7 separate regions of the Homo sapiens genome follow, and all the other regions are reported to be linked to region 1. Evidence: microRNA targets listed by miRTarBase, many of them from high-throughput screens and not tested one by one. Region 1 holds a microRNA gene; each other region holds the end of a gene's coding sequence.

What was found. The annotated mature microRNA hsa-miR-8082 reads UGAUGGAGCUGGGAAUACUCUG and lies in region 1 at 1,995-2,016, opposite strand. An mRNA with a match to its seed (bases 2 to 7 or 8) in the 3' UTR can be bound and repressed. Matches are read on the target gene's strand: a 7mer-m8 pairs with bases 2 to 8, a 7mer-A1 pairs with bases 2 to 7 and ends in A, and an 8mer does both.
Region 2: miRTarBase lists ELMOD1 as a target of hsa-miR-8082. Seed matches in the 3' UTR shown: 7mer-m8 at 2,895-2,901.
Region 3: the mRNA of ZNF843 is a reported target of hsa-miR-8082. The part of its 3' UTR that is shown has no 7-base or 8-base seed match.
Region 4: miRTarBase lists STAR as a target of hsa-miR-8082. Seed matches in the 3' UTR shown: 7mer-m8 at 3,308-3,314 and 7mer-m8 at 2,459-2,465.
Region 5: miRTarBase lists MCOLN2 as a target of hsa-miR-8082. The part of its 3' UTR that is shown has no 7-base or 8-base seed match.
Region 6: miRTarBase lists SLC39A11 as a target of hsa-miR-8082. Seed matches in the 3' UTR shown: 8mer at 2,919-2,926.
Region 7: the mRNA of POFUT4 is a reported target of hsa-miR-8082. The part of its 3' UTR that is shown has no 7-base or 8-base seed match.

The regions. Positions count from the first base shown.
Region 1 is chr4:113,150,308-113,154,307 of GRCh38, reverse strand. It overlaps MIR8082 (microRNA 8082), which reads right to left and starts at 2,026; the gene lies at 1,946-2,026. The region is part of intron 1 of ANK2 (ankyrin 2); the gene reads right to left.
Region 2 is chr11:107,664,853-107,668,852 of GRCh38, reverse strand. ELMOD1 (ELMO domain containing 1) reads right to left here. Exons shown (of 12, transcript NM_018712.4): 12 at 2,074-3,828. The coding sequence ends at 3,656. Among named protein-coding and RNA genes, the nearest start is that of SLN, 45 kb to the left of the region's middle.
Region 3 is chr16:31,431,968-31,436,259 of GRCh38, reverse strand. ZNF843 (zinc finger protein 843) reads left to right here. Exons shown (of 2, transcript NM_001136509.3): 2 at 1-826. The coding sequence ends at 457. Among named protein-coding and RNA genes, the nearest start is that of COX6A2, 5.8 kb to the right of the region's middle. RefSeq lists an enhancer at 279-779.
Region 4 is chr8:38,140,869-38,144,868 of GRCh38, forward strand. It overlaps STAR (steroidogenic acute regulatory protein), which reads right to left. Exons shown (of 7, transcript NM_000349.3): 7 at 1,832-3,518. The coding sequence ends at 3,405. Among named protein-coding and RNA genes, the nearest start is that of STAR, 8.1 kb to the right of the region's middle.
Region 5 is chr1:84,922,778-84,927,069 of GRCh38, reverse strand. MCOLN2 (mucolipin TRP cation channel 2) reads left to right here. Exons shown (of 14, transcript NM_153259.4): 14 at 349-1,487. The coding sequence ends at 385. Among named protein-coding and RNA genes, the nearest start is that of LPAR3, 32 kb to the right of the region's middle.
Region 6 is chr17:72,644,223-72,648,514 of GRCh38, forward strand. It overlaps SLC39A11 (solute carrier family 39 member 11), which reads right to left. Exons shown (of 10, transcript NM_139177.4): 10 at 1,727-3,440. The coding sequence ends at 3,362. It overlaps LOC105371887 (a long non-coding RNA gene), which reads left to right. Exons shown (of 4, transcript XR_934961.3): 4 at 1-243. Among named protein-coding and RNA genes, the nearest start is that of LINC00511, 5.9 kb to the left of the region's middle.
Region 7 is chr10:73,774,830-73,779,086 of GRCh38, reverse strand. It overlaps POFUT4 (protein O-fucosyltransferase 4), which reads right to left. Exons shown (of 3, transcript NM_173540.3): 3 at 2,868-3,546. The coding sequence ends at 3,402. Among named protein-coding and RNA genes, the nearest start is that of POFUT4, 4.7 kb to the right of the region's middle.

The sequences.
Region 1 (4,000 bases):
GACAAGGTTAAACAATGAATAAAAGGACTCTATATAGGTACACAGTAATTATTAGTTTTTGGAAGTGAAACTTAAATTTATTCTAAGTGTTATGGTTTAAAACTTTATGGTGATACAGCACAGATATTTTCTTACTTTTAAGGTGATGCATATGAAATGCAGAAGGGCCCATTTGCTGGCAGAGTATCCTCCATTCCCACATGTCCCATGTGGTCTCAGCTACTTTAATTGCCTCTAAATAGAATTTTGGCAATACATTGAATTAACCTGGATAAGAAGAAGCTTAATAAAATGTGAAGGGTTTCTTCTACTTTTATGCTCTTATGTGCTGATGTTACATATTCAGCCCTGACTCTTCAGTAAAGTCAGCCTCTTGCAACACAAAGCAGTGGTTATCATACTTAAGTGCACTTAAGGGTTACTTAGAGACTATGCTTAATCTTGTTAAATAAATATTCTTGGCTCTCACCTCTGAGATTTTAACTCAGGAGGTCTGGAGTAAAGCTCAGCCATCTACATCATTTAAAAACACACCAGGCGATTCTTCTGATGTGGTAGTTCACAGAGTACACTTTGGGAGGCGCTGACATAAAGGATTAACTAGACTTTTCATACTGTGTGTTTATTACACAATCCCAAATACAGTTTATCCTATGTCATCATTAATCATCTAGTCTGTCAAAATGTATGCTGTAAGAATGCATAAAAAGCTGAATATCATAAGCCATTTTTTAAAAGAAATGATTATGTATTATAGATGGTATAGACAAATCTGTGAAATATATACCTTACTAATATAAAATTGTTAAATGTCTTTTATTCCTGAAAAATACTCTTTTTCTTTTGTAACTCTGGGGAAAAGTTCATATGTAACAACCAGTGGTTTTCAAAAAGGAAAGATTTTCACAAATTTTTCTATGTACTTCTGTTTTACTAGGTATCTTAGAAGATGCTTTCTAATATCCTTCAGAAAGCCAATAATCTAGAAAGGTATGACACAAAAGTAGCAAATATAAAGGTACTTCAGCTCTAGTTCTAATATATTATTTGTGACTTGTGAGAGATCCAATTTAAGTACACAATGTGTTTATTTAATAGAGTTGCTGTACTAGAATATGGAAATTCCTACAGTATCAAACAGAATCTATGATTTACTTCAAAGCCCCCTTTTGGAACTCATTGATGACTGAGGAAGGTAAAGAGTACAGAAAAAAAAAAAGACTGAAATTTAAATAAACTGTATGTCAGCAACACTTAAACTCATCAAAAACACAGTTTCAATTTATAATCTCTACTATTACACAGCTGGCTTTCACATAGCTTTAAGAAACAATTCATTAGCTCAAAGCCACCATTGAAATTATTATACTTCTGTCAATCATTGTAAGATTTTTACTATTTTTTTTTGAGACAGCATCTTGCCCTGTCACCTAGGCTGGAGTGCAGTGGTACAATCAAGGCTCACTGTACCCTCAATTTCCTGGCCTGAAGAGTTCCTCCCAGCTCAGCCTCCCAAATAGCTGGGTCCACAGGTGCACACCATCAAACTTAAAAAAAAATTAATATAGAGACAGAATCTCCCTGTGTTGCCCAGGTTGATCTCAAACTCCTGGGCACAAGTGATCCTCCTGCCTCAGCCTCCCAAATTGCTGGAATTACACGTATACTTCTTATAAGGAAGTATTAAAGAAAGGCACAAAAAAGTTTTACTATAGTCACATAAGCCCACACAAATATGATATGAAGGTCAGCTTTGAAAAATCAAACACGTAAAATTTTGACAATCAAATGTGATATAATATGCCTAAGATTTCACAGAGAAACCCTTAAATAAAAATAAAGAATTCAGGAAACAAGTCAATCTATCTTGTGGCATAATAAGTTTTGATTAAAGGGGCATAAAATCCAAAACAGCAACTAAAAGTGAGTAAGAGGCACAGCAGATGTCTGTGTGGGAAGGAAGCAAAATACAGCTGAAAAGAGGACTCTCTCCCCAGAGTATTCCCAGCTCCATCATCACACAGGCGACCTTGAAAAAGCCACTATAGGGACAGTGGAACTAATCTTATTAAATATAGCAGAAGAGATATTATTCAAAAGTTATTACATAGTTCAAGTAAATACAAATACTTGGTTTGGATATACCTCATTATAAAAAAAATAAATAGATAATGCTTAACATTACAATGTAATCTTTCTTTCCTTCTTTTTTCTTTTTTTTTTTTTTTCTTTTTTTTTTTTTGAGACAGAGACTTGCTCTGTCACCCAGGCTGGAGTGCAGTGGTGTAATCTTGGCTCACTGCAATCTCCACCTCCTAGGCTCAAGTGATCCTCCCACCTCAGCCCCCCAGTAGCTGGAATTACAGATGTGTGCCAGCACACCTAGTAATTTTTTTTTTTTTTTTTGTAGAGATGGGGTTTCACTATGTTTCCCAGGGGGTCTTGAACTCCTGGGCTTAAGTGATCCTCCCACCTCAGCCTCCCAAAGTGCTGAGATTACAGGTGTGAGCCATGGTGCCCAGCCTACCTTCACCAAATTTCTTTAAAATGTAACCATTGCATTTTATGTACAACTTGATATAGAGAATAACAATTCAAGAAAATGTCTACTACTTTCTATAGTAAATATGTTTTATACATATATTTTATACCAATGCTGTGGTTTCCATATTTGACTCTGCAAACCTCAAGTTGAAATGTGATCCCCAATATTGGAGGCAGAGCCTAATAAAAGGTGTTTAGATCATGAGGGTGGACCCTCATGAATGGCTTAGTGCCATTCTGGTGATAAGGAGTGAGTTTTTGCTGTATTAGTTCCTATGAGAGTTCCCCTGATGGCTGATCATTAACAAGAGCCTGGCACCTCCCCCTGGTTTCTGTACACACCAGCTCTCCTACCCTTTCCTCCGTGAGTGGAAGCTTCCTGAAGCCCTCACCAAAAGCAGATGCTGGTGCAATGCTTCTTGTACAGCTTGCAGAACTGTGATCCAAATAAACCTCTTTTCTTTATAAATTACCCAGCTTCGGGTATTCTTTTGTAGCTACACAAATGAACTACGACAACAAGTAATGTGTGCAATTGCAGTAAGGGTACATTCCTTTTTTGAGCAGAAGGTTATAATTAAAACTTCTTAGTTACCAACGTCTTTACTGTTTTTAGAAGTGTTTTTTTGCTTCCATCACCTTTTCAATGTTGGCGGCCTCTGGTTTCATCTGGGGGCATGTCACCTGTAGTGGGAAAATTCCCATAAATAGATTTGCTACTTTGGGTGATTTCCTAGTCATTAATTCATTCATTTTTTTCACAAATATTTACTAAGTACCTATTAGCTGGTAGGAACTTCAAAGAAAATAGAGCTTATGATATGCAGACTACAACCTAATTGATTCTCCTAAAACAGCCTTTGGTCAATGGCCTTTCACTAGTATATAGTTCAAATTCTAAATCTTGACTTATGAATCTCTTGATAATCTTAGCCTATGTGCCTCATCTAAATTTTGGGGGTTCCACAAATGTCCAGTAGAAATGGTATTATAGCCATTGCTTTCCAGTCTTTCTAATGAGTCCAATACTGAGTGTGTGAACTTCCCATAATGCTTCAGGACTTAACTTTTCTGCCACCCTCTGAGGCTGAGTTGTCATCCTGAAGTACTCTATAATCCCCTGTGCTTTCTCAGGACATGGGAACACAATATTCAAAGTCCTGCTTTGGCCATCCCTGGATTACACTCCTTCAAGCCAAGTTTGCATGTCCTACTCATCTTGGTAGGCCCATGCCTGGCTGAATACATGCTTACTGAAGGCACAAGTGTACTTTCTTCCCAACAGGAACCCAGATTGTATTTTGCTCCCAAGATCTGCTTCAGGCTCCACCTTCTCCACTGGCAGGATGGATATTAAAAATATTTAACAACTAGTTCAGCTCAGGCACCAACCACTCCCAATGGACACTGGCCACAGCACTAGAGGAGGGTGGTCCTGGAAGCCCCTTGAGAGTCC
Region 2 (4,000 bases), not on the chromosome of region 1:
TCTTGAGACCTTTGGCAATGTATTAAATTATCTAAGCCTGTTTGTCTAGAAAAACAAGTGCGCAGGCAAACAACAACCCATCTGATCCTGTGTGTTGTTAAGGAAATGAAATAATGCAAGGTAAGGACTAGCACCGTCCTGGCACATGGCATAAAAACCTGGTAAATGTGAGCTCTTGAAATGGAATCTGTACCAGAATCTCTTTCATCTTCTAGGACTTCATGTTATACTTGGTTCTGCTTTTCTGTCATTTTTTTCTCTAGATTAGAGCAGCTACCGTTGTTGAGCTCCCTGAAGAGTTAGAGGCATTGCTTTAATAGAGTCTGTGTCAGAAGGCTTAGTGGCTATGGGTCTAGCTGATATTTTCCTTTTTCTCTGCCCCCTTCCTCTTCTCTCCATCATCTGCCATCTCCTATCCTCATATTCCACCAACTCTGGTCCCCTCCTCACTCCCCTTCAATTTGGATCTGGCACCATATGTTTACGGATCAAGATAATTTGTTGCCATGGAGTTTGATTGCCTATTGCCAACTTAGGCCCCATCTATGCAGCTGAATTTCTCAGCTCAAACCAAGCCCATGCTTGTGATGGGTCTCTAAGATTTTGGGTAGTATCCTGGATATCAAAATGTCTATATCTGTATGATGTACTTCTCCTGCCAGAGGCTTGAAAGTAAAGAAATTGGGCTATATTTGCCTAATTAAGTTGTGGGTGGACAATCCTTATGTCTGTCTCTTGGTCTCTCTTGGCCACCTAACATCTCAGTTTTCTTAAACTGTCCCAGTTTACTCTGTTGTTCTAAAGAAACCATTAACAACATCCCCTTTCTCTCTCAACAGTGTTCTGTTTTGGAAGATATATTGTAAGGTCACCCTGTCTTTTGGGATTGGCATATATTTAAGCCTCTTTTCAAATATGGAAAAGATGGTGGGTTACCAGGCAAAAGTTTTTCAGCACAGTACAATAACAAGAACCGTGAGAAGGAAGGTCAGAGTCAAGTTTCAGAAACAGTGCTTCAGAAGGTTTTCTTTCTGTAGTGCAAACAGGAATGTGTTTTTATCATAGCAAGTAGTGCTTTGGAAGACTTGGAAGAGGCTTGCCGCACAATTGACATTTTATGTGGTCAACCCTTATTCAATGGAAAAGTATAAGCTAAAAATATTCAAGGGAAACACACACACACACACACACACACACTCCACATGTTGTTGATGCTTTTGAAACCTCTCCTCTTCTTTTTCTCACCTCACTTTGTGTGACTGGGTGGAATGCATCTTCCACAAAGTGGTGTGAATGAGAAATCTAATAATACTCAGAGCTCAAAGGAGCCGTCACAGCTTGTTCATCCTAAGATTGTGCAGCCATGTTCAAATACAATAGAAAGAAAGCATCCTAGGAGCTGAGAGGGGAAACTCTTAGCTTTGTTGGCGTCAACTATCTCTATCTGAACAGAAGAGACGCAAGCTGGTGTAAGTGCCACATGCTGTCAAGCCGTGACAGTGACATGGGACCACAATGGATAAAAAGAGACAATGAGCACATGTGGCTGCAAAGGCTGGACTGCATGTGGAATAATGCCTTCATCTACAGCAGCTGCAGCTACGGTGGAAATTCAGGGCTCCTCAGGCAGGCCTGAGGAACTAGGTTGACAAGTTCTCCCCTACTTGAGAGAGGAATATACATTCTTGTCATTACTCATGGTATCCACCATGTGCTAATCAACTCTTTCCCTTCCGCATTCTAAGAAGGGACACAGGACCATAAGAAAGGCAATGCAAAATGCTGCCACCTGGTACATGGCTGAAAGGGAAAGGATAATACAAACGCAGAAGGAAAGGATAATACAAACGCAGAAGGGAGAGAAAGGCCAAGAAAACAATGGGTAGTTAATGTTTCTGCTTTATCTAGCAACAGCCAAGCCAGGTTTCCTAGGAAGTTGTGAACCTGCTGACTCTGAATGATGGTGTGATTTATAGTCAGCTCCAGGTTGTCTGTCTTTGACATTCCATTCACTCACATATTTGCATATTCAGAAGCTGTACGAGCACAAAAATATTAATATGAAATCCAATATACGTTACAGTAGAATGACATGTAATTTATTCATATAACTGACAATTAGGCAGTACTCAAAATTCATTTAAATAAGCAAGTGGTTACACAAACATCTAATAATACTAAAATTGATAGTCAGAAGGTATAAAATACCATGGGTATGAAATGCCATGGTAAATACTATTCAACAGACTACAATCATAATTCCAAACTAAATCATGGTTTTTAAAATGATTTTTAGCAGTTCTGGAACAATTTGACTTTTCCCTTTCTAAGCAACTTACTTCTTCCACTGATACAAGACAAGGTCGTTATTTTCAAGAAATATCGCAGAGTGACTTAGCTTAGGTTGCTCTCTTGAAACACATTTTCTTGCAAATTGTTTTTTAATATTGCCCCTTGACATAGAAAACAAACTAGTCAGCACTTAGTTCCCCAAGCAAATATGCTTGGATCAGAACAGTGCCAGGGTGTAACCCAGTTCCGCAAGAGGCAGGCAGTGAAAAACCTTTTGCAGCTTTTGAAATATGCTTATTTCTTTTCTGAGGCTTCAAGCATCATACACTTAGGCATCCAAGCCAATGAAGTTATGGGAATAAAATAGTTTGATATACAGATGACTATGACACAATTGCAACTGGGGTGAGGGGAAGTTACAATATAATTTTGCAGTACTTCAAACAAAAACAGCTCCTACCTAAAGTTACTTCTTGTAAGCCTCATGAAGCATAGCTATGTTTGCAGGAACAGTTTGGCTTATCATGTGTCTGTCTGTACTATTTTATTTATTTATTTATTTATTTATTTATTTATTTATTTATTTATTTATTTATTTTTGAGATGGAGTCTTGCTCTGTCGCCAGGCTGGAGTGCAGTGGTATGATCTCGGCTCACTGTAACCTCCACCTCCCGGGTTCAAGCGATTCTCCTGCCTCAGCCTCCCGAGTAGCTGGGATTACAGGCACCCACCACCACGCCCAGCTAATTTTTGTTATTTTTAGTAGAGACGGGGTTTCACCATGTTGGCCAGGATGGTCTCGATCTCTTGACCTCGTGATCCGCCCGCCTCAGCTCCCCAAAGTGCTGGGATTACAGGTGTGAGCCACTGCGCCCGGCCCTGTTTTGTATTATTTTAAAGTCTTATACTTTATCAGAATGAGGTCCAAGCATGAACCTGGCTTGAAGAGCTAGCAGCAGTAGTCATGAAACATTTCAATAAATTAAAAGGCTTTCACAGAATGAGATTCAGCTAAACCTCTTACATACAAAATACAGCTAGAGAAATACAATTCTTTAATGCTGAATTATGAGGGAGAGGAAAAAAAGTCTAAAAAAATAGAAAACTCTCTCCATACCTGGGTATCAAGGCAAGATGTAACACTGCATAATGCCACAATATGAGCAGTCACTGGATGACAGATACTCCAGAAACAGTGGTCTCTGGGGATCTCGGAATTATGACCAAGAGATGAAAACACTGTACCAAAAGGCATGCATACAATCACTGTGTGCATTCAATGCGTGAGCTGCGACCTAAGCAGAGATCTAACAAGACAATGAGGCAGTGTTCCAGGGTATCCATTAAAACCGGCGTGGGCAACTACATGTTGATTAAACCTTCCGAGGCAGCAAAATGTGGGCACAGCGCCATGTCTGGGTTCTGCAGCTGTTTGATGATCCTCTTGCGGAATTTCTCCCTCACACGATTAAATTCCATTATGTCCATGGGGTCCTCTTCGATCCAAAACTTATGAAATTCATGCATCAAATAGCCTGTTGGAGACAATACAATGATAAGAATGCAGGAGAAAAAAAAATCCTTAATCACATTCAAAATCATTCTGAATGCTGAGGAAGATGCTGAACCAAGCCACAGCAACCGTGGAGCTCAAAGAAGACCTCAAAATCTAGAAAATACCACTGTTTAAGATTATTCTTTAAAATC
Region 3 (4,292 bases), not on the chromosome of region 1:
GCCCTGTGGGAGCCCCGGGTCCTTCCTTCAACATCTGCCCCCATCCACACTCCTGCCCCGACCTCCCTTCCTTTATCCTGGCCCCCCACTCAGTCTCCAGCCTCTGGTTCCATCCGGCCTTCCCGCAGTGCCTGCAGTGCCTCTGGGAGGCCTGGAAGTTGCCCAGGTTCCGCCAGCCACCCAGCCGGCAGCTCAGCAGGAGGGGGCGATGGGGCCCAGAAGCTGTGCGAGCGCGGGACGGGACTCGCGGGAGGCGGTTCAGGCCCCAGGCTACCCTGAGCCAGCCCGGAAGGCCTCGCAGCACAGAGCGGCCGGACCGCTCGGCGAGGCCAGGGCCAGGCTTCAGCGACAGTGCCGAGCTCCTCCACCGCCCTCGAACCCACACTGGAGAGGAGCCCTACCAGTGTTTCCGGTGTGGAAGGCCTCCAGCCGGAGGTCCAACCTGGCCCGACACTGAAGAACCAGCGTGCTGCAGCCCTGGGTGGAATTGTTGCAGCCGCCGGTGGACTGTGGATCTGAGATGCAGTCCCCTCCCTCCACACAGACCCGCTCAGGACGGCTTTTCTGTATGGCAGATCTTTCTCAGAAGTGCTGGGGGCTATTTTGTTTGTTTTTTTTCCCCTGAATTCTCGCTCCTTTCCCTTATACATTAAGGGATTTAGGCAGGTGCGGCTGCGGGCGGTGACTCACACCTGTAATCCCAGCGCTTTAAGAGACCGAGGTGGGAGGATCGCGTGAGCCCGAAGAATTTGAGACTAGCCTGGGCAGCCTAGCGAGACCGCATCTCTGTGAAATAAAAATAAAACGAGCTGGTGTGGTGGCGCTGGCCTGTAGTCCCAGCTACTCAGGAGGGTGAGGCGGAAGGATCGCTTGAGTTGGAGAGTTCAAGGCTGCAGTGAACTATGATCAGGCCACTGCACCCCAGCGTGAGAGACAGAGTGAGACCCTGTCTCTCTAAAATAACTAAAATAACAAAAGGATTTAGGTAGGTAGTAGGCAAAGGTATATTATCGAAGTAACAATAATATACAAGGTATATTATCGAAGTAACAATAATATACAAGGTATATTCTTGGTGTGGACAGGAATAATATTGTGTTATCTTAATATTAGTGATTATTTCTCTCTCCTTTTTTTTTTTTCTTGAGACGGAATCGTGCTCTTTTGCCTAGGCTGCAGTGCAGTGGCATGATCTCTGCTCACTGCAACCTCCATCTCCCGGGTTCAAGCGATTCTTCTACCTCAGCCTCCTGAGTAGCTGGGATTACAGGCGCCCACCACCACGCCCAGCTAATTTTTGTATTTTTAGTAGAGAGGGGGTTTGACCATGCTGGCCAGGCTGGTCTCGAACTCCTGACCTCAGGTGATCCGCCCACCTCAGCCTCCCAAAGTGGTGGGATTATAGGCATGAGCCACCGCACCCAGCCTCTCTTGTGCTTTTTAGATAAGTATTTTTAAAAGTGTTTGTTAGTTGTCGGCTGGGCGTGGTGGCTCACGCCTGTAATCCCAGCACTTTGGGAGGCAGAGGAGGGCGGATCACGAGGTCAGGAGATCGAGACCAGCCTGGCTAACACGGTGAAACCCCGTCTCTACTAAAAAAAATACAAAAAAATTAGCCGGGCATGGTGGCGGGCTCCTGTAGTCCCAGCCAAGCTGGAGGCTGAGGCGGGAGAATGGCGAATGGCGTGAACCCGGGAGGCGGAGCTTGCAGTGAGCCGAGATCGCGCCACTGCACTCCAGCCTGGGCGACAGCGAGACTCCGAATCAAAAAAAAAAAAAAAAAAAAAGTGTTTGTTGGTTTGTTGGTTGTCTTAATGATGTGCTATTAGAGTGAGGAAGAAAAGTTACCCTATGAGAATTTAAACTGCATGAAAGTCTGTGGTAGCATTACTGGTTCAGTTCCAAGCTTGCTACCTCAGTCCTTGATGCCTCTTTCTCCCAATCCAAGTAGTATCAGGCACTGCCGTCTACTTGTTGTACCTCAGAAGAGTTTTTCGACAGCACCCCGTGCCCTCTGTGGCCTGTGCTCTCTCACAGGTGCAAGTCCTGTCATCATGAGCCTGGACTGTTGCAGAAGACTCCTAGCCAATCTCCCCTGCTTCCCGCCTCTGCATTCTGGTTCAGCATCCATAGAACCTACCAGTTATTATAGATTCCTCCCTCAGACTCCAGACTCCAACACTAAATCTGATGTCAGTCTCCTGCCTGAAAGGATCTCCTGCCTGCCACTCCCACCCCTCCACCCCCTCCGCTGACCCCAGCAGGGCCTACAGAACAGGGTTCAAATGCTTTAGCGTGGCATGCATGCTTCTCCATTGGGCTTCGCCTGACCTCTGTGCCTTTGCTGGCCAGGGCCTCCTGCACCTCTGTGTCTTTGCACTTGATTTATTTCTTTCCACTGCCCAAAATGACCTTTCCCCTTTTCTGTCTCCCAGACTTGCCCTACTCATTCATATGAGCCCCACTTCCACTTAGAGACTGCCCCACCTCTCGTGTCACACCTGACGTGGTGAGTGCTCCAGTGGCATTAAGAACATAGGGCATGTCTGTCTGGTAACCTATCTCCCCAGCAGACTGAGCTCCACGAGAGCAGAGACCCTGGTGCAGGGCCTGGCTCACAGTGGGTGCTCAATTAATATTACTTATGTGAAGGAACCACTTCCAGCTGCTCAAGTATTCTATGCTAAAACTTGGGTTTCTTTCATCCTTGTTGTCCTCCCAAGATACAATGTGTACATAATTGGAAAGTTAGCCAAGGTGACTATGAAGGTGACCCCACCCAATCAATCTATGTCTTCCTGGTTACTGTGCCTGTCATTCGATGATTCCACGGTTATGTCTATAGTGATAACAGAAAAAAGCAACTGAAAACAATATTATTTACTCGGGTCTCGTGCATCTCCTCCACACATTTGTAGAAATGAGATTACCACAAATTGCCAAGATGGTTACATCAAATTTTCAGCAGCATCAGTCATAGGACAAAAAGGCCTTTGAGTGTATTTTTAATAATCAGCATTTACTGGTGGCAAAATACTGGTTTAGAAAATATCTGAGATTATGGTCAGGCACGGTAGCTCACGCTGGTAATCCCAACATTTTGGGAGGCTGAGGCAGGTGGATCACCTGAAGTCAGGAGTTCAAGACCAGTCTGGCCATAATTTCAGATGGTGAGATTATAGTGAAACCCCATCTCTACTAAAAATGCAAAAATTAGCTGGGCGTGATGGCACACATCTACAATTCCAGCTACTCAGGAGGCTGAGGCTGCAGTGAGCTGAGATCGCACCACTGCACTCTAGCCTGGGCAACACAGTGAGACTCCATCTAAAAAAAAATCTGAGATTAATAGGTTGCCATTTTAGGCGCTCTTTATAGACCAGCTGGCCTAGTGGTCCTGGTTCTGTAATATGTGAAGTAAAGGTCTCGCAGGGGAGCACCAGTTTCAAACTCTGTCCTAGTTTGCAGCCTTGGCTGGAGTGACCCCAGTCATGAGGCAAACTGAGCACAAGTGTGCAAGTGTCATGGATTCAGCCAGAACATCAGTGTTCCCAGCATCAGACACAGATTCGGGAGAAATCAAGTCACAGTGTAGAGATGTATTGTGATGTGTCACTACACTATTATGAAATGGAAGAAAATAAAATTACAAGCCTCAACCTTTAAACATTTAGCAACTTGGGCTGTATCTCAATGTGTAATTTATTTGTCTCACTTCATTTTCACAAACATTAAATCCCTTCATATCAAGTGCCTATGAGGTTTAATTCATTAAAGGCATGCATACTCCAGAATGTTTATTAAATACATTTCTATCATTTCTACAAAAGAAGCCCCAAAACTTCAATAAAATATGGATCACAGTACAGGGGAACAGAAATCAGAAATGTGCTGGTAAAAGTTTAGAGATGTGGTATAGCTTCATAAAAAATGTTTAACAATAAATTAGGACTTAAAGCCCCATTTCTAACTGGCTTTTACGAATAGGGGATTTGTTATTTCACATAACTGAAAAGTCTTAAGAGTTCAGCTCTTTCTCAATTCCGGCACATCTTGACTCAGGGATTCACATAATATTAACAAGGCTAGATCTCCCATTTTTCAGGTCTGCTCTGAAAATGGCTTCAATATTGGCTTCAATTGAAGGCCCCAGCCTGAGGCTCCAGCAGCTCCAAGTCCAGTTGAAGTATAATTGTGTTTCAACAGTCCAAGAGACAGGCCTGAAAATTGGAACTCATGGACTTGTGCCCCTCCCTACAACAATCATCCCAGCCTGGGCAACACAGTGAGAC
Region 4 (4,000 bases), not on the chromosome of region 1:
TGGGACTACAGGCACGTGCCAACACACCTGGTTAATTTTTTTTCGTATTTTTAGTAGAGACGGGGTTTCATTGTGTTAGCCAGGATGATCTCGATCTCCTGACCTCATGATCTGCCCACCTCGGCTTCCCAAAGTGCTGGGATTACAGGCATGAGCCACCACACCCGGCCTGTCTTCCTTTTTTCAATACATCAGTCTTACGGCAAAGACAGCCCTCCCAGGATTGCCCAAAGTCCCTCCTGCATTTACCTCTCTACCTCGGTTAATAAGTAGAGTGGCTCACCACTGGAGGGTGACATGCTGCTGCAGAATCACCATGTTATGCCTGTGGCTCTTCTGAATATCTTATCATTTTCCTGTTTAAGAGAGTTCCCACACTTCAAGACAATATTGGTATTTTAACATAGTAGCATTGATTAATATATTTGTCTCCCGATGAATCACCCAGACACTTTGATTTGGCCACTGCATATCTCTGAACAGGAAAGCCTATACAGGTCGAGTGTGATTGGAGGCTGAGGCTCAGCCCTAGACACCTATTAATGCGTGAACTAGTCTTCAAGGGCAGACCTGGTTATAAAGCTTCTAGATCATCGGAGTTTGAGGTACTCCAAGAAAATGAGGGTGGTGTTATTTAGAGGAAGCTGAATGTTAACTCTTTGTAATATAAATTACCACATATAAGTTGTATACACACTCTCCATCTAAATTATAAAATTAGCTTTTTGTATATATTTTCACAAATCAAAGGTTACAGGTAATGATGTTCTTCTCAAACTTCAAAAGTGTGTGTGTGTTTTAATACAGTTCATTTGAAGGGCTCAGAGAATATCTACTCTTCACAGCGTCCTATATAAAATAGTTTCTGTAATCAGATCAACAGTGATAACTTGTTTTATTCCAGTGTAAAATTAAACAAGTGGGAAAATATCTCCACAGAAACCAGAAAGACACAATTACATAGTTTGAAGGAGGCAATTAGAATCCAGCAAACCAGTGGGTTTGTTAAAAGCCTATTTCTTGACTGTCAGCCTGTTCTCTTGAAACTACAATATATGTTGCTTTAAGGTATCTTTAAACAAGTAACTATTTTCTCTTAGCTGGTAGTGGATGATAATTCCATTTTAGAAATACTTCTCTACAACTATCCTCTCTCAACTCTGAGGCTCCTAGATAAACAATAATTTTATCCATGTCAAAAATAAACTAAGAAACAATCCGAATAAATTATAATAAATACCTTTACTAGTTGTAAAATTTTAATACCTCAGGAAATACCACAGTGTTCCCACTAATGCTATTTTTTAATTTTTTAATTTAGTTTGTCATAATTTGGTTTCATCAACTCCTTTGTTTTTTCCTTCTTTTTTTTTTTTTGAGATGAGGTCTCACTATCTTGCCCAGACTGGTTTCGAATTGCCCTCCAGCAATTCTCCCACCTCAGCCTTCAGAGTAGCTGGCATTGTGGGTAGGCACCACTGTGCCCAGCTCCTGTTTTATAATAAATAAGCCAGAGCTCTATCTCCAAATGGTGCAAATCATCAATGCTATTAAAACAAGAATGGAAAAGCTTCAGGTGGTAATGGTGATTTTTTCATCCTCCCTACCCCCCTCCCATCCCAATGTGTGTGTGTGTGTGTGTGTGTGTGTGTGTGTGTGTATAATTTTTTTTTTTTTTTTAAGACAGCCTCGCTCTGTCGCCCAGGCTGGAGTACAGTGGCTCGATCTTGGCTCACTTCAACCTCCGCCTCCCGGGTTCAGGCGATTCTCCTGCCTCAGCCTCCCAAGTAGCTGGGATTACAGGCATGCACCACCACGCCCAGCTCATTTTGTATTTTTAGTAGAGATGGGGTTTCTCCATGTTAGTCAGGCTGGTCTCCTGCCCTCAGGTGATTGCCTGCCTTGGCCTCCCAAAGTGCTGAGATTACAGGCGGGAGCCACCTCACATAAATTCTCTTGACTCCTGGGAAAGGGAATTTGCTTTCACCATATTACCCCTTCTTCCAGCCACTTCTCCCAGAATACTAAACTTTTAGCCTGTTTAAGCAGAGAAGTTGCCAGCCCCAAACAAAGTTGACAGCTGTGGAATTATCTTACTACTAATTGGCATCATAAATAACAGAAATGTTAACTAATATTGTTTATCCTCTCATATTTGGCACTGCCTTTCCTTTTAATTAGGTAAATAAACAGTTATAATCTTCATCTTCCAGGGCCCATTAATCAGCTATTGCTTATAGAATTCTTTAAGAACTCATTTAGGTTATGATTATGGAAATTAAATTTTTATGAAAGATCCTGGTAACAGAGTCTAAATTATTGAATTGCATAATTTCCCAGTAGTTCCTTTCCTTTTAATGAGCCTTAATTTAGTTTGACTAATTAAAAGCTTTGTCCAGAACTCCTCTAGTGTGAAGTTGTAATCTACTAGCATAGATTTTTTTTTTTTTTTTTTTGAGATGGAGTCTCACTCTGTCGCCCACGCTGGAGCGCAGTGGCACAATCTCGGCCCACTACAACCTCCGCCTCCGGGGTTCAAGTGATTCCCCTGCCTCAGCCTCCCAAGTAGCTACGACTACAGGTTTGCGCCACCACACCCAGCTAATTTTTTGTATTTTAGTAGAGACGGGGTTTCACCATGTTGGCCAGGATGGTCTCGATCTCCTGACCTTGTGATCCGCCTACCTCAGCCTCCCAAAATGCTGGGATTACAGGCGTGAGCCACTGCACCCAGCTGCATAGATTTTTTTAACAGTACAATATTAAAACAAAGACTGATGTTTGTGTGAATTATGATTCTTTATTCTGACTGGTGCCTATGAAAGCAATAGGGAAACATGTCTACTAATGAGTTTTGTCTTTTTCCACAGAGAAAGCTTGGACTATATTTCTGGAAGGCACCCACTGTGGGGTGCTGCTTGTTCTGTGGTGTTGCTGTGCAGCGGCCGGGAGGAGCAGAGGGCTGCAGGAGACCCTCTGAGATTCTGCTTTGTGCACATGTACTGCCAGCGCATGGCATTCTTGAGCCCATAAAGCAAGACTTCTCAGGCCCTGTGGTTAGCATCCCCCACACCCATATCAGCCACTAGCATTTTAAAGATGGTTTTAGGTGGGTACATAAGGGCCCAGAAAAAAAGTTTTACAATTATTTTAGGGGCCTGAACCCTCATGTCATAGCTAATCAGTGAATGAAGTTACCTTTTAATCCAAGAGCCTCATCCCTGTTTTCTTGGTACTAAAAACTTTCACCAATCTGAATCCTAGTGTCATACTCTAAACACGAACCCCACCCATCCCACTGTCACCAGATGGAGATCTTAGACTTGCAGGCTTCCAGTAGGGATTCTCCTGATGAGCGTGTGTACCAGTGCAGCTGGGCACAGTTGGGAACAGCAGGCTGGTCTTCAACACCTGGCTTCAGAGGCAGGGTGGGACTCCAGGCGCTTGCGCAGGTGGTTGGCAAAATCCACCTGGGTCTGGGACAGGACCTGGTTGATGATGCTCTTGGGCAGCCACCCCTGCAGTAGGAGGTAGGAGAATTTGGCCATCTTGTGGGTTTTGGCCCACTCTTGACACTGCACCCTATCACAAACAGGCTGCCAGGGGCTTGGTCTTCGAGCTCTGTTAATAGGTGCAGCCTTGGAGTTGCCCAGTCAAGGGCGGGAGGACTGCATTGCTCCTCTGCTGTCATGACTTTCAGAAGCACAAGACTGGCCAACAAGATGTTTCAGCCTGGTGTTCCCAGCTGTGTGACCCTGAACCAGTTATGTTGCCTTTTTCACCCTTCAGATCTCTGGACCTAAGTTTCCTTCTTTCTAAAATGATAACTACATATAAGAGTTGAACTTTGCTGTGAGACAGAAGAGGGCCAGGCGCAGTGGCTCACGCCTGTAATCCCAGCACTTTTGGAGGCAGGCAGATCACGAGGTCAGGAGTTTGAGACCAGCCTGGCCACCATAGTGAAACCCCGTCTCTACTAAAAATACAAAAATTAGCCATG
Region 5 (4,292 bases), not on the chromosome of region 1:
GCTCTCCCTCCCCTTTCCCCCTACCCCCCAACATTTCCCCGTGTGCGATGTTCCCCTCCCTGGGGGCATGGAGGTTCTTAAGAGACAGGTGACTCCTCACAGTGTTTCCAAAAGCATCTGCTCAAACCTCAAACAGTGTACATTGCCTTTATTTATTTATTTACTTATTTTTTCTGAATGTTGGTAAATAATCAGAATACCTTGCCTGTCTTAATTTTTCTTCCTCTTCTATGTTTCACTCAACATGTCTATAATCTACGGGCCTAGAATATAGAGTATTCCTATTGCTCCTCAAAGATGTTAAAGTATTGTATCTTTCCTCTTTTCTTCTTTCCCTTTCTGTTACAGGAAAAGAAGTGATGATCACTTGATACCTATTAGCTAAAGTTCTGCTAAAGATGATTAAAGTTCAGGCATCCTTATCCAGCGGCTGAGCAGAGGAACCCCAAATGACTTGGACAAGCAGTTCCAAAATGACTCTCTTATTTAATTGTGGAGTGGGAAAGAGGACTCACAGTTAGCCAGCTGACCATGACTGAAGTTCCAGCTTTACTTTTTATAAACTTGAATGATAAAGAATAGACCATGGGCTACTACTGGGCATTAGTGCAATATAACAGCGATAATAAAATTCTCTATTAGTCTGTTAATTTATGACATGATCTCGGAATGGAAAAAGATCATTTCAGAGTGTGCGAAATAATAGTCTTTAACCATGTAATTAAATATGTGTGTTTATTGTCAAATAAGGATTTGTTTTAAAGGTGATTCTTGGGTTTGAAGACATTTGTTAATTCATGGTCTGTACAGAAATGAAGCTGGTTGCAATACCAATCTAGAGAGTCCAAGCTGGTGAACTATTAAGCTGTTTAAAGATCACCCTTGGCCTGGCACAGTGGTTCACACCTGTAATCCCAGCACTTTGGGAGGCCTAGGCAGGCAGACTGAGCTCAGGAGCTTGAGACCAGCCTGGGCAACATGGCAAAAACCCACCTCTACAAAAAGTACAAAAATTAGTCGGGCGTGATGGCAGGCATCTGTAGTCCCAGCTACTTGGGAAGCTGAAGTGGGAGGATCACCTGAGCTCTGGAGGTGGAGGCTGCCATGAGCCATGATCGTGCCACTACACTCCAGCCTGGGTGACAGAGTGAGATCCTGTCTCAAAAAAAAAAAAAAATCACCCTTAAATCAACAAAAAGACCTCATGCTCATGCAGTGGACATTTCTTGGCCTGTTTTCCTGTGGGTTTTCTTCAGCATGATATGAAGCAACTGTTGGCATAGCCAGTGGGATAAATAAGAAATGGAATCATTTGGCTGCCTCGTCACTTGTGCTAATGGTCAGTTGTACACACATGACATGTGGAAGTGACCTGTAGCAGCGGTCACTCATTTTAACAATTGAACTCTGCTGGGTTGGGTATTTACCTTTGTCTAGAAAAGAAATATGATATATTTTCTCTAAATAAATTTATTTTCATCATTCCATATGGCATTCTTACTATTTTATGCATTGTCTCTAAACAACTACCTAATGAAACATTCAGATCACATCTCTCTTAACCACTTGGTCTCCAAAAGGGATTTCCCAATTTCTTAAAAGCAGTGAAGGATATACAGGGGCTAAGATATAGAAGTTATTCAATAAATATTTATGATGATAGCTTGAGAGATGAAGATCACTTCATGCATAGACTTATTTCATACCTGAGCTATCTCAGTGGCCAACTATTTAAAGTTATTGGTGAAGAGGAGAATTTGAATTAAGCAGGACCCTCCTTCCAGGGCTCTTCCTCTTTCTCCTTGGCCTCAGTCGCCCTCCCCACAAGCCCCTACCCAATTTTCCTTCTCATGTCACCTTCCCCCTCCTTGCTCTGACCCCATCTTCATATGCCTGCACCAACTATAGGCAGGGAAAATCATGCAGTTAATACCATTAAAGTATATAAGAGAGTAGATGACTCATGTCTACACACAGAGTACTTTGCTAAAATTATTTTAAACTTTCTTTTTTACAAGATATGTGAAGAGTTATGTTTGATTTTTAAACTAAGACACCATTAAACTGGTGGTTCTGGGGTCATTTGCCTGACCCAAGAATCAGATACGTAATTGGACCACTTGTTAACTTCTGAGTATATTGTCATATACTTAGTTTTGTCTCTGAAAAGAACTGCTATTTTTTTTCTTTCTCTCTTTTTTTTTTTTTTTAAACAGAGTCTTGCCCTGTTGCCAGGCTAGAGTGCAGTGTCATGATCTTGGCTCACTGCATCCTTTGCCCCCCAGGTTCAAGCGAGTCCCCTGCCTCAGCCTCCTGAGTAGCTGGGACTACAGACATGCACCGCCACACCTGGCTAATTTTTTGTATTTTTTTAGTAGAGATAGGGTTTCACCATATTGGCCAGGATGGTCTTGATCTCCTGACCTCGTGTACGCCCGCCTTGGCCTGCCAAAGTGTTGGGATTATAGGCGTGAGCCACCACGCCCAACCCAAGAATTGCTATTAACATGGTGAAACCCTGTATCTACTAAAAATACAAAAATTAGCTGGGTGTGGTGGCAGGCGCCTGTAGTCCCAGATACTCAGGAGGCTGAGGCAGGAGAATCGCTTGAATCCGGGAGGCGGAGGTTGCAGCGAGCCAAGATCCGGCCACTGCACTCTAGTCTGGGTGACAAAGTGAGACTCCATCTCAAAAAAAAAAAAAAAAAAAAGCTTTCATTTGTTCTGCAGCTGTGACTGCCATTTGAATAGAAGATTAATGATGGGTTTTCATGCTCATATTATTCTTCTATTGGCTTTCATGTTTTCTTTTATTTATTTTCCCTCCAGCTGGACAAAACAGTTTTAGAAAGAAAAATGTTTTTCAGGGTTAGCTCACATCTATAGAAACATTGTTTTCTCCCTTTTTAATAATGTTAAACAATTGTCACTTTATCAACTGTATTGTTATTTGGATTTTATTGAACAATGTTGTCTCATAATTCTGCTAATAGATGCATCTGGGATAAATCATTTTCTCTCTTATCATAGGCCTCCACTTAGAGGGTTCCCTGTGAAAGTTAGGAGACACATTCTTTCTGCCTGCTGGTTTCATTCTGGGATCTCCAACCCTTGAATTTAACTCCTTGGCTTGTGGTGACACAGTCAAAACCATATACAACATCTTAAAGCTTTTTCACTTGAGCTGGTAGGAGAGAGTGTGGGCATAAGAGCCATCTAGACAGACTTGAGTTAAAATTCCAGCTTAACCTAACTTTAAGGCCCTGAACAAGTTACTTTCTTCCTCTAAGTGATGATAAACCTCAACCAAGACTGGCACTTAAGTCACATAATTTATGCAGAGCCTGGTATTGAATTCATTCCTGAGCTGTTATTTCCCTTTGATTCTCTAACATGTTTGCAATAGTTTCCATGGGACCATGGAATAATGCAGACACGACTTTGCTTCTGCAACCTGTCTGCCTCAGCTGTCCTCTTCCTACTGCTACCTGAGTCTCCTTGGACAGGTCATGCCATGCATAGATTTCCTCATCCATAAAATGGGATTATGAGGATTGAATGAGTCAAACGTAAAGTGCATAGAATAGGGCGTGACTCCTAAGTGCTCAATGACTATTAGCTCTTCAAAAAACATGTCTTACTAACATGGTCTACAAATGTACAAATCTGTTCATCTGGGCCAGCCAGGAAGATTTTTATTTTATAATGCACTCACCACACACTTCTGGTGGACTTTGTTCTAGTTAGAACTTTAAGTGTGCAAAAGTCCCCCATCCAGTCCTGTCCTGGAGGCAATGATCAGTTCAGCCCTAAGAAGCTCACACCTAGCCATAGAGGAGCAGCAAGGAGAAGCAGCCTAAATGGCTGGGGCACAGCTGTCAGTCCTGATGGAAGAGAAAAGGTCCAGGAGGTGCACAAGCTGTCACAAAGCCTCAGTCCTTCACCCTGGGTGAGACCCTCAGTCCTCTACTAGGACTACCCCCTTAACCAAACTTGTCAGAATGTATAAAATTCAGGCCCACTTCCTTCTCAACCCATTGCTGACTCAAAGTGGTGAATGCAAAAGAGTGAGAGAGGGTAGTTAGGAAAAGCTCTTCGTGCGATTCGAGGCACTGTCCCCCACTCCTGCTGAGGACCTACACTCCAACAATTGTAAAAAGGGTACACTGATCCAGTGGAAGACCACGCTTGGAATCATGGGTTTATGAAAAGCACAATAGCCCAGCCTTTTGATCTAGGGGTAGCCAGTCGCCCTCTTGTCCCTGTGGACCTTCATGTAAAAATGGCCCAGC
Region 6 (4,292 bases), not on the chromosome of region 1:
AGGGAACATCACGTGGTGCCGTTTCTCCCACAGCCAGACTAAACAGGTCTGGAGGAAGGGGAAGTAGGCACGGTGCAACTTCCATCTTACTTAATGACTCTCACTCTCTTCAACTTTTTTTCCACCAATTAGCGATTTTATTCCCAGGAAAGGAAGGTTGCACCATTGAGGCAGCTGACCGTTGGGGTGGCTCCCTTTGGAAAGGGGATATAAAGTGTTTGTATGAGTGATGGTTCCATTAAAGCAGACATTTTTTAAAAAGGTGAAATTTGGGGAATTAGAGTGAATATAGATGTTGAACAGAAAAAGAGTGATATAGCAATAGTCTGGACATGTGGGCTGGCCACCTGGAATTTCACATGCCATTAGGTCAAAAAAGTGGGTTGACAAGGCTGGCTGCAGTGACTAGTCCTGGGAAAATGCTGCTATACCACGGGAGACAGGCCAGGGTGGAGGCTATGAATGAAACTCAAGTGGTTCTCTCAGGAGCCGCCTCCTCCTCCTCCTCCAGCGGTGGGAGTTAAGGGAAGACTGTTACCATCATGCATATGGGCAGGGCCTCCTTGGTCTCTGTGCCCTTAGGAAAGAGGAATAGGGTCACGGCTAGTAGGTCACACCCCAGTCATCTAAGGTACTGGCTGAAGACAGCATGGACTTGGAATGGAAACTGGAAGCGGGAAACCTAAACATCATCCAGGGTCTCTTCTCTAGGGCAGGAAATGGGTGCTGTAGCTTCTACTTGTACTTCCTGTGTTGTGTGTATCCTATTTTAACTCATTGCCTCTCTTTCCTCTCCCGTTATTCGTTTTATTGTATATGGGATGAACGGTTATGGTTAACTTTACACTTCAGCTCAAAGATACAGAATAATGAGATGGGCTTGTTATCCCACGGAGGTGGGGTATCCATTACTCACAGACCTTGAGTACAGGAGTTGAAAGACATTGGGGTAACCCCGTTGGAAAGGGAATGAAAGAAGTTTTGATTGTATGAGGAATAGCTACATATTTTAAGCAAGAGTTTTTTCTTTAAGTAAAACTAGAGGAATTAGAGTATATGTTGATATTGAACAGCAAAAGAGTAAGGCTGTAATGAACTTAATAGACCCTTTTTTTTTTTTCTATTTTGGCTCTGCACCATATGAACTCATTCCCAAATTTGGAAAATCCACTATTTTGCGAGTCTTGGGAAGGGGCAAGATCAGCTAGTTCATGGGCACAGGATCTAAGCTCTGGCAGCTGGATGTTCTGATCTAGAACTTCGAATGTGGAGCCAGGACACAAAGAATCCAGCTCAGTGTAGAGTTTGTTCTTGTGGCGGCAGTGGTGGTGGCATCAAGGTACAGCAGTTTCATTAGTGGTGTCCAGGATCTAGGGACCAGCTCTGGGGACCATGGCATCTAAACCAAGCTGTTCTCCAGGTGTGATTGGGTCATGGCCCCAGACCTCTGGCTTTCTTGGATCCAACCCATTTTCAAGCCCGATTCTCCGAAAGAGCCTGTGAATTCCCTAACAGGCTTCCACTCATTTCCTTTTCTGTTTAAGTAAGCTGCTGTTGGATGCTGTTGTTGCAACCAAGAATCTGACTAGCCCTTCCCATCTGAGCTCTTTCCTTTGCCTCTCCTAGTGTTGGATCAGGGAGGTGTTAGTTCCAACTTTAGTTAGCTCTTTTATGATCATCCTTGCAAAGAAGCAGCTTTGAGAAGTACTGAACGTAACACAGGTCATCCACAACATCCCCTTTTTATTGATATTAATCACAGTTATGAGGTCTTGTCCATCAGAAAGCACAATTTGCATTATGTAGAACTACATACAAAGACATAAAAATAAAACATACATACACCAACCACCACACCAGTTAATCTCAACCAATCAAACCTCTGAATGTGTCTTCAATTTTGATCATCAGTGCTTCGGAAGAACGTACATAGACCCAGCCCAAGGTTGGCCTTTGGGGTCTGATAGCATTCACAGAGCAGGAGATTCACCCTTGGAAGCAATTGAATGTGTAAACTCTGAGAGCAGACACTGACAATGCAATGCCTGCATACCTGACTCCTGGGCTGCCTTCCTTCTCAGCAGAGCCCACTGAAAGTCTCACGTGTGCCTTTAACCAATGAGGATGGCAGGCCTTATCTGTGTTTGAAGTGGACAGGTCATTGCTACCCCTGTTGGAGAAGCTATGTAAGAAGGAGTAGGCTGGCTTCTGGTCTAGTTCGACTCATTCTTTATAGGGACATTTCAGAATGATGAGTTGGCTAAAATTTACTTTAAAGGGGAAATGTAAAATTACCTCTTCTTTTCCTATCCCCTTCTTCCTTTCCCATCCTGAGCCCTCTGGCAAGGCCTGTTGCAGCTCAAGAGTTTTTGTCAGATTATAAGTTACCAAATGGTCAACAGGGAAGGACCCACAGCAGATTCCAAAACTCTTTCATTCACTTGAGTTAACTGAAATGGCTCCTTCTTTGAGTAATTGAAGAGTTTGAGTTCTAGCAGTTTGCTGGTGTCTCCAAGTCTCTTAGAAACATGATGGCTATAAACTTATCAAAATAAATGCCTAAGAAATTTGGAAAGCGCGACAAATGGCCTTGCTCCTGGAATCCATTGACAGCAGAGGCCTCCGAACAAACCCACACTCTGTCTGTCTCTTCTTTCCACAGGGCTCACTGTGAGTTCACAGTTGTCCTCATCCCCTTTCCTTCAATAATGTCAATCTTTGCCTTTAAAAAAAAAAAAAAAAAAAGCCAGACTAGCCAATTTCCTTCCCTTTTTCTGTGTCCCCCTCCCATGTAGTATCTCCTTAGGGGGAGGTAAAGGAAGACATGCTCCTCTCTGGGCTGGCTCGGCCTTGGAAGGTAGCTTGCTATCTTTATGATGCTCCAGTTCCAACATTCTAGATGGGGAGAGGCTCAGCAGTGATGGAGCAGGAGGGGCGGATGAGAGGTGTGCTGGCCACTCTGCCCTGAGTCACTAGGCCACCAAAATGCTTAGGAGACGTCTTTTGGTAGCTCGCTTCTATAGGTGACCTTGAGGAGTTGGGAGGCAGATAGAAGGTCCCGAAGTGGAGATTTCCCTGATCTGAAGTTCCTTGATAATCCCACTGAAGAGAGAGTCCATTCAGTGGCCAAAACAAAGAATCTGTATTTCCATGACACCTTAAAATTCCCCATTAAATCAAAAATCTCCCTCAAAGCAAAGTAAAAATGGTTCTATTATAATCAGAGTCAATCAGGATAATGAGATGAAGAAGAGAGGAAGGAAAAAAGTTTTAATGTGAAGAAAGAAGCTTGTTGTCCCATAGAAGCCAACCACTGCTGTTTCTTCGTATGGCCTTTCCCGGGGTCCGAAGCGTCTCAGCCCTAGCCCAGGCCAACGTCCAGTGACATCATCACTACAAATCCCAGGATGGAGGCCCAGGATGCCAGTTTCCCATTACCACTGGAAGAGAAGGACAGGAAGAAAAGTAAGACCTTAATGATCCCTGAGGCCACGGCTAGGCTGAAGGCATCCTCTGCAATGTCCAATTCCAAGAGAAAGCACACTACCATTAATAATGGTAACATTTACTGGGGCTTACTATGTGCCAGGCAAACTAATGAACCATGGAACCCCAAACAACAACCTCATGAGGTCAGTATCATAATTATCCTCATTTTACTGGTGGGGAAACTGAGGCAAAGAGAAGTTACTTGCCCAAGGTCACCTATGATCGTTCTGTGGTCCATGTGTGAGTAATGAAGAGGGGTGATTATTTCTTAAAGATATTACTTAATCTGGCCTTTTAAACTAGCCTCAGAGTTATTCTTCTATAAAAACCAAAATAGGCTGGGAGCAGTGGCTCAAGCCTGTAATCCCAGCACTTTGAGAGGCCGAGGCAGGCAGATCACCTGAGGTCAGGAGTTTGAGACCAGCCTGGCTAACATGGCGAAACCCCGTCTCTACTATAAATACAAAAATTAGCTGGGCGTAGTGGTGGTTGCCTGTAGTCCCAGCTACTTGGGAGGCTGAGGCATGAGAATCACTTGAACCTGGGGGGCGGAGGTTGCAGTGAGCCGAGATCACACCACTGCACTCCAGCCTGGGTGACAGAGCGAGACTCTGCCATTAAAAAAAAAAAAAAAAAGAAAAACAAAACAAAACAAAACAACAACAAAATGGAACAAAGCAAACCCTTACTCCCACCTTCTGACACCTGGCCTATAGCTAGCCAGTGAAGACATGCATGTATCACCTTCACTGACATTTTAGAGCTCACCTCTCCCTTCATTCCAGCCCGAGAATCGAGAGACA
Region 7 (4,257 bases), not on the chromosome of region 1:
TTTTTTTTTTTTAGTTTCTGGAGTGCAGTGGCGATCCTCCCACTTCAGCCTCCCAAGTAGCTGGATCTACAAGGCACACACACCATGCCCAGCTAATTTTTTCTGTTTTTTGTAGAGATGGGGTTTTACCATGTTACCCAAGCTGGTCTTGAATCCCTGGGCTCAAGCGATCCTCCTACCTTGGCCTCCCAAAGTGCTGGGATCACAGGCATGAGCCACTGCACCCAGCCTGAAGGTCTGTCTTCCCTCTTGTTCTTTTCTGCAAAAGGTCAAACAGGGTAAGCAAACTTTCTGTAATTTATGAAGATCATCTTTTATTAAAGGACTAAATGAAAAAAGAACAACTTTGGCAATAAAATTCAGCCTAATTACAGCTTTTCTTGGCCGCATCCTTAGATGTCAGTATATTAAGTGTAGACCCTAGTTGTTGAAGCATCTAACATATATCTATCTATATAGGTAGATATATAGATATAGGTATAGATAATATTAAACTGTGGAACTTCTCTAGTGATAACTCACTAATACATTACAACTAGAGTAGCCCTAAGGTCCAAGGTATTCTTTCCTGTCCCACTGCCCCAGAAAGAGCTAATGGTCTCCCTGCTCATTAGACTGTATGTTCAAACCACAGCAACAGAAGGGTTTGGCTGCATCCCCAAATCTGACTAAGCTTTTTTTTTTTTTTTTTTTTTGGGATGGAGTTTCGCTCGTCACCCAGGCTGGAGTGCAATGGTGCGATCTCAGCTCACTGCAACCTCTGCCTCCCAGGTTCAAGCAATTCTCCTGCCTCAGCCTCCCAAGTAGCTGGGATTACAGGTGTGAGCCACCGTGCCCAGCTCTGACTAAGCTTTTATTTAGCCAGCCACTTGTGGCTTAAACCTCCTCATCCCCTTGAGTGGGCTCCATCAAAAAGTAGTCTCAGGCTGGGCACGGGGCTCACTCCTGTAATCCCAGCACTTTGGGAGGCCGAGGCGGGTGGGTCACTTGAGGTCAGGAGTCCGAGACCAGCCTGGCCAACATGGCAAAACCCTGTTTCTACTAAAACAAATACAAAAAAATTAGCCAGGCATGGTAGTGCGTGCCTGTAATCCCACCACTCTGGAGGCTGAGACACGAGAATTGCTTGAACCTGGGAGGCAGAGGCTGCAGTGAGCCAAAATCACGCCACTGCACTCTAGCCTTGGTGATGGAGTGAGACTCTGCCTCAAAAAAAAAAAAAAGGTGGGGGCACCTGGGCACGGTGGCTCACGCCTGTAATCCCAGGACTTTGGGAGGCCAAGGCAAGTGAATCACCTGAGCTCAGGAGTTCGACACCAGACTGGCCAACATGGTGAAACCCCATCTCTACTAAAAATACAAAAATTAGCTAGATGTGGTGACGGGCGCCTGTAATCCCCACTACTAGGGAGGCTGAGGCAGGAGAATCACTTGAACTGGGAATGCAGAGATTCTAGTAAGCTGAGATCGCGCCACTGCACTCCAGCCTGGGCAACAAGAGCGAAACTCCATCTCAAAAAAAAAAAAAAAGTCATAGGGAAGCGTATTAGTAATACAGTGAATGAAGCTGGACTATTCATTGCACTTAAAGTGAAAAGTGCTACAGATTATGAAATAATTACTAAAACATACAGCCACACTGTTTCCATAACTGCAGAAGATGGGACTTTGTAGCATATAAAAACAATAAAATAGAGGGAACACTTCATTAGGCAAACAAAAGAATTAGGACCTATAAAAATTTGCACTTTTTTTCCTGGATTTTTTTTTTTTTTTGTCAACCTACTCACCAAAAAATTTGCACTTTGACTCATATTGGCCTATTTTAACATTTCAAAATCATTTAAAGAAAAATATGACTTTTTCTGTCATAATTCCCAGTCTTAGTCTCTATCTTTGATCAAAAAGAGGATAGGGCAATACATTAAATTGACAAGGCATATAACAGCCACTGAATCTTTCTGTTCATGAGAAGAAATCCCAGATACACCATAAATGAGATGCAAACCAGCAGTAAGAATGATGGCAAGGTTTCTGTATTTCCATCAGAAATTGTGGAAAAGGGCCTAAAACCAGGAAAGACAAGGCCATTAAAAAAATGTATTTGAGGCCGGGTGCGGTGGCTGACACCTGTAATCCCAGCACTTTGGGAGGCCAAGGCGGGCGGATCACGAAGTCAAGAAATCGAGACTATCCTTGCCAACATGGCGAAACCCTGTCTCTACTAGAAATACAAAAAATTAGCTGGGCGTGGTGGTGCATGCCTGTAGTCCCAGCTACTCAGGAGGCTGAGGCAGGAGAATCGCTTGAACCAGGGAGGTGGAGGTTGCAGTGACCCGAGATCATGCCACTGCACTCCAGCTGGTGACAAAGCAAGACTCCATCTTAATATATATATATAATTTGAGACGGTGTCTCGCTCTGTCACCCAGGCTGGAGTGCAGTGATCATGATCATAGCTCATTGCAGCCTTAAATTCCTGGACTCAAGTGATCCTCCTGCCTCAACCTCCCAAGTATCTAGGGCTACAGGTGTGCACCACCATGCCCTGCTAATTCTTTTATTTTTTAGAGACAAGGTCTTGCTAGGATGGTCTCAAACTCCTGGCTTCAAGCAGTCGCCTCTCCTCGGCCTCCCAAAGTGTTGGGATTACAGGCATAAGCCACTACGCCTGGCCAGAAAAAGCCAAAAAAAAAAAAAAAATTAGGGCTGGGTGAGGTGGCTGATGCCTGTAAACCCAGCACTCTGGGAGGTCAAGGCGGATGGATTGCTTGATCCAGGAGTTGGAGACCAACCTGGGCAATGTGGCAAAACCTCATCTCTACAAAAAATATTTTAAAAAAATAAATAAATAAGTAAAATAGAAGTTTGACATGAAAGTATATAATATAAAAAAATCCAACTCCGGAAAACCAGAATACAACTCACCAAATGTTTTGCTTCTCCACCAACGTAACAATTTATAAAGCAAGAGATGAGAAAAAGAGATTATTGGGAAATGTACTGAATAATGAGGAGTCTGGGGAATAGAACAAAAGTTGTAAGTCGTAACCTGACCCATCTTACTTCACTGGTAATCAAGTACAGTCGAAAGGATGAAATAAAGAAGTGAGTAGTTTAAAAACTCTGTTGGACCAGCACCTTGAATCAAATGGATGTTTTAGGGTTCTGTTTCCCACTGAACCAAGAATTGTATCCCTCCATCTCTCCTTGAGGAGAGGCCCTATGTTAGACCTTGGCTACTCATCATTAAGATAAAATCTTAATAGATAAAACTGGAATTCCTTGAATCCATGAAAAGACAGTGTTCATTAAGGGTTTGTGCAGTGGATGCTCCTTATGTCCCATGGTAGAATAAGATCTCCTTAGCTCCGCCAAGTTAAAGGCTCTTGCAAGGGCACTTAGAGATGTTGCCTCTTCATGAAGATTTCATGTAGGTAATCCCAAAATTTCGTCTGCTCTGTTTCATTGTTGTGGATCATGGCAGTGAGAGCTTCCCCCTGGTCCAGACCTTGCCAATAATCTTGCAGCCACATCTCTTTCCAACTGAAATATCAAAATGGGGGTTGGATTATGGAACTGCAGCATAGTTATGAGTCCTGCCTTTTTCCGAGTGGGGCCAAAGAAATCTTAAGCAGATACAGTGGTCTCTAACTTGGACAAGACTGCTGTGAAAGGAAGACAAAGTGAAGTAAATCCAATATAAGCCCAAGCGACAGGCAGTAAGTCACAAACACAAAGACATCACACAGACTACCCAATCAATTACGATTCCTGACTTGCCTGCTTCTGGCTCCCAAATGTGGAGGGGGTTCAGAGGCAGGCAAAGCAGAGGCCAGACTGGAAGTGGCAGTCTCCATAAGGAAAGCAAGGGGGCAGGGGTCTTTAGATGATTATCTTTTAAGTTTCACCTTTATGCCAATAATCAAAATGAAGGTGCATCAAAATGAAGTAGCATCCAGTATCTAGAAAAGACATAACCTGAATATTTATTTTCTTAATGTTTCATATTTTTTCATACTTTTCCTCTAGTAAATCATATTATGTTCAGATACAAACAATTTGTAATTAGATACAAATTACTTGGTGAAGGATTCCAACCATCAGGACAAAACTGCCAGCAGCATCTGTTAATAAATGGCCTTCTGCTGCCATCCACTGTCCAAGTCGGTTTCTATAGGCCATTCTAGCAGCCTTACTTCAGCTTAATAATCTTATCACCTCTCCCCCAATAGGTGTGGCTTGCTACAAGTGGTT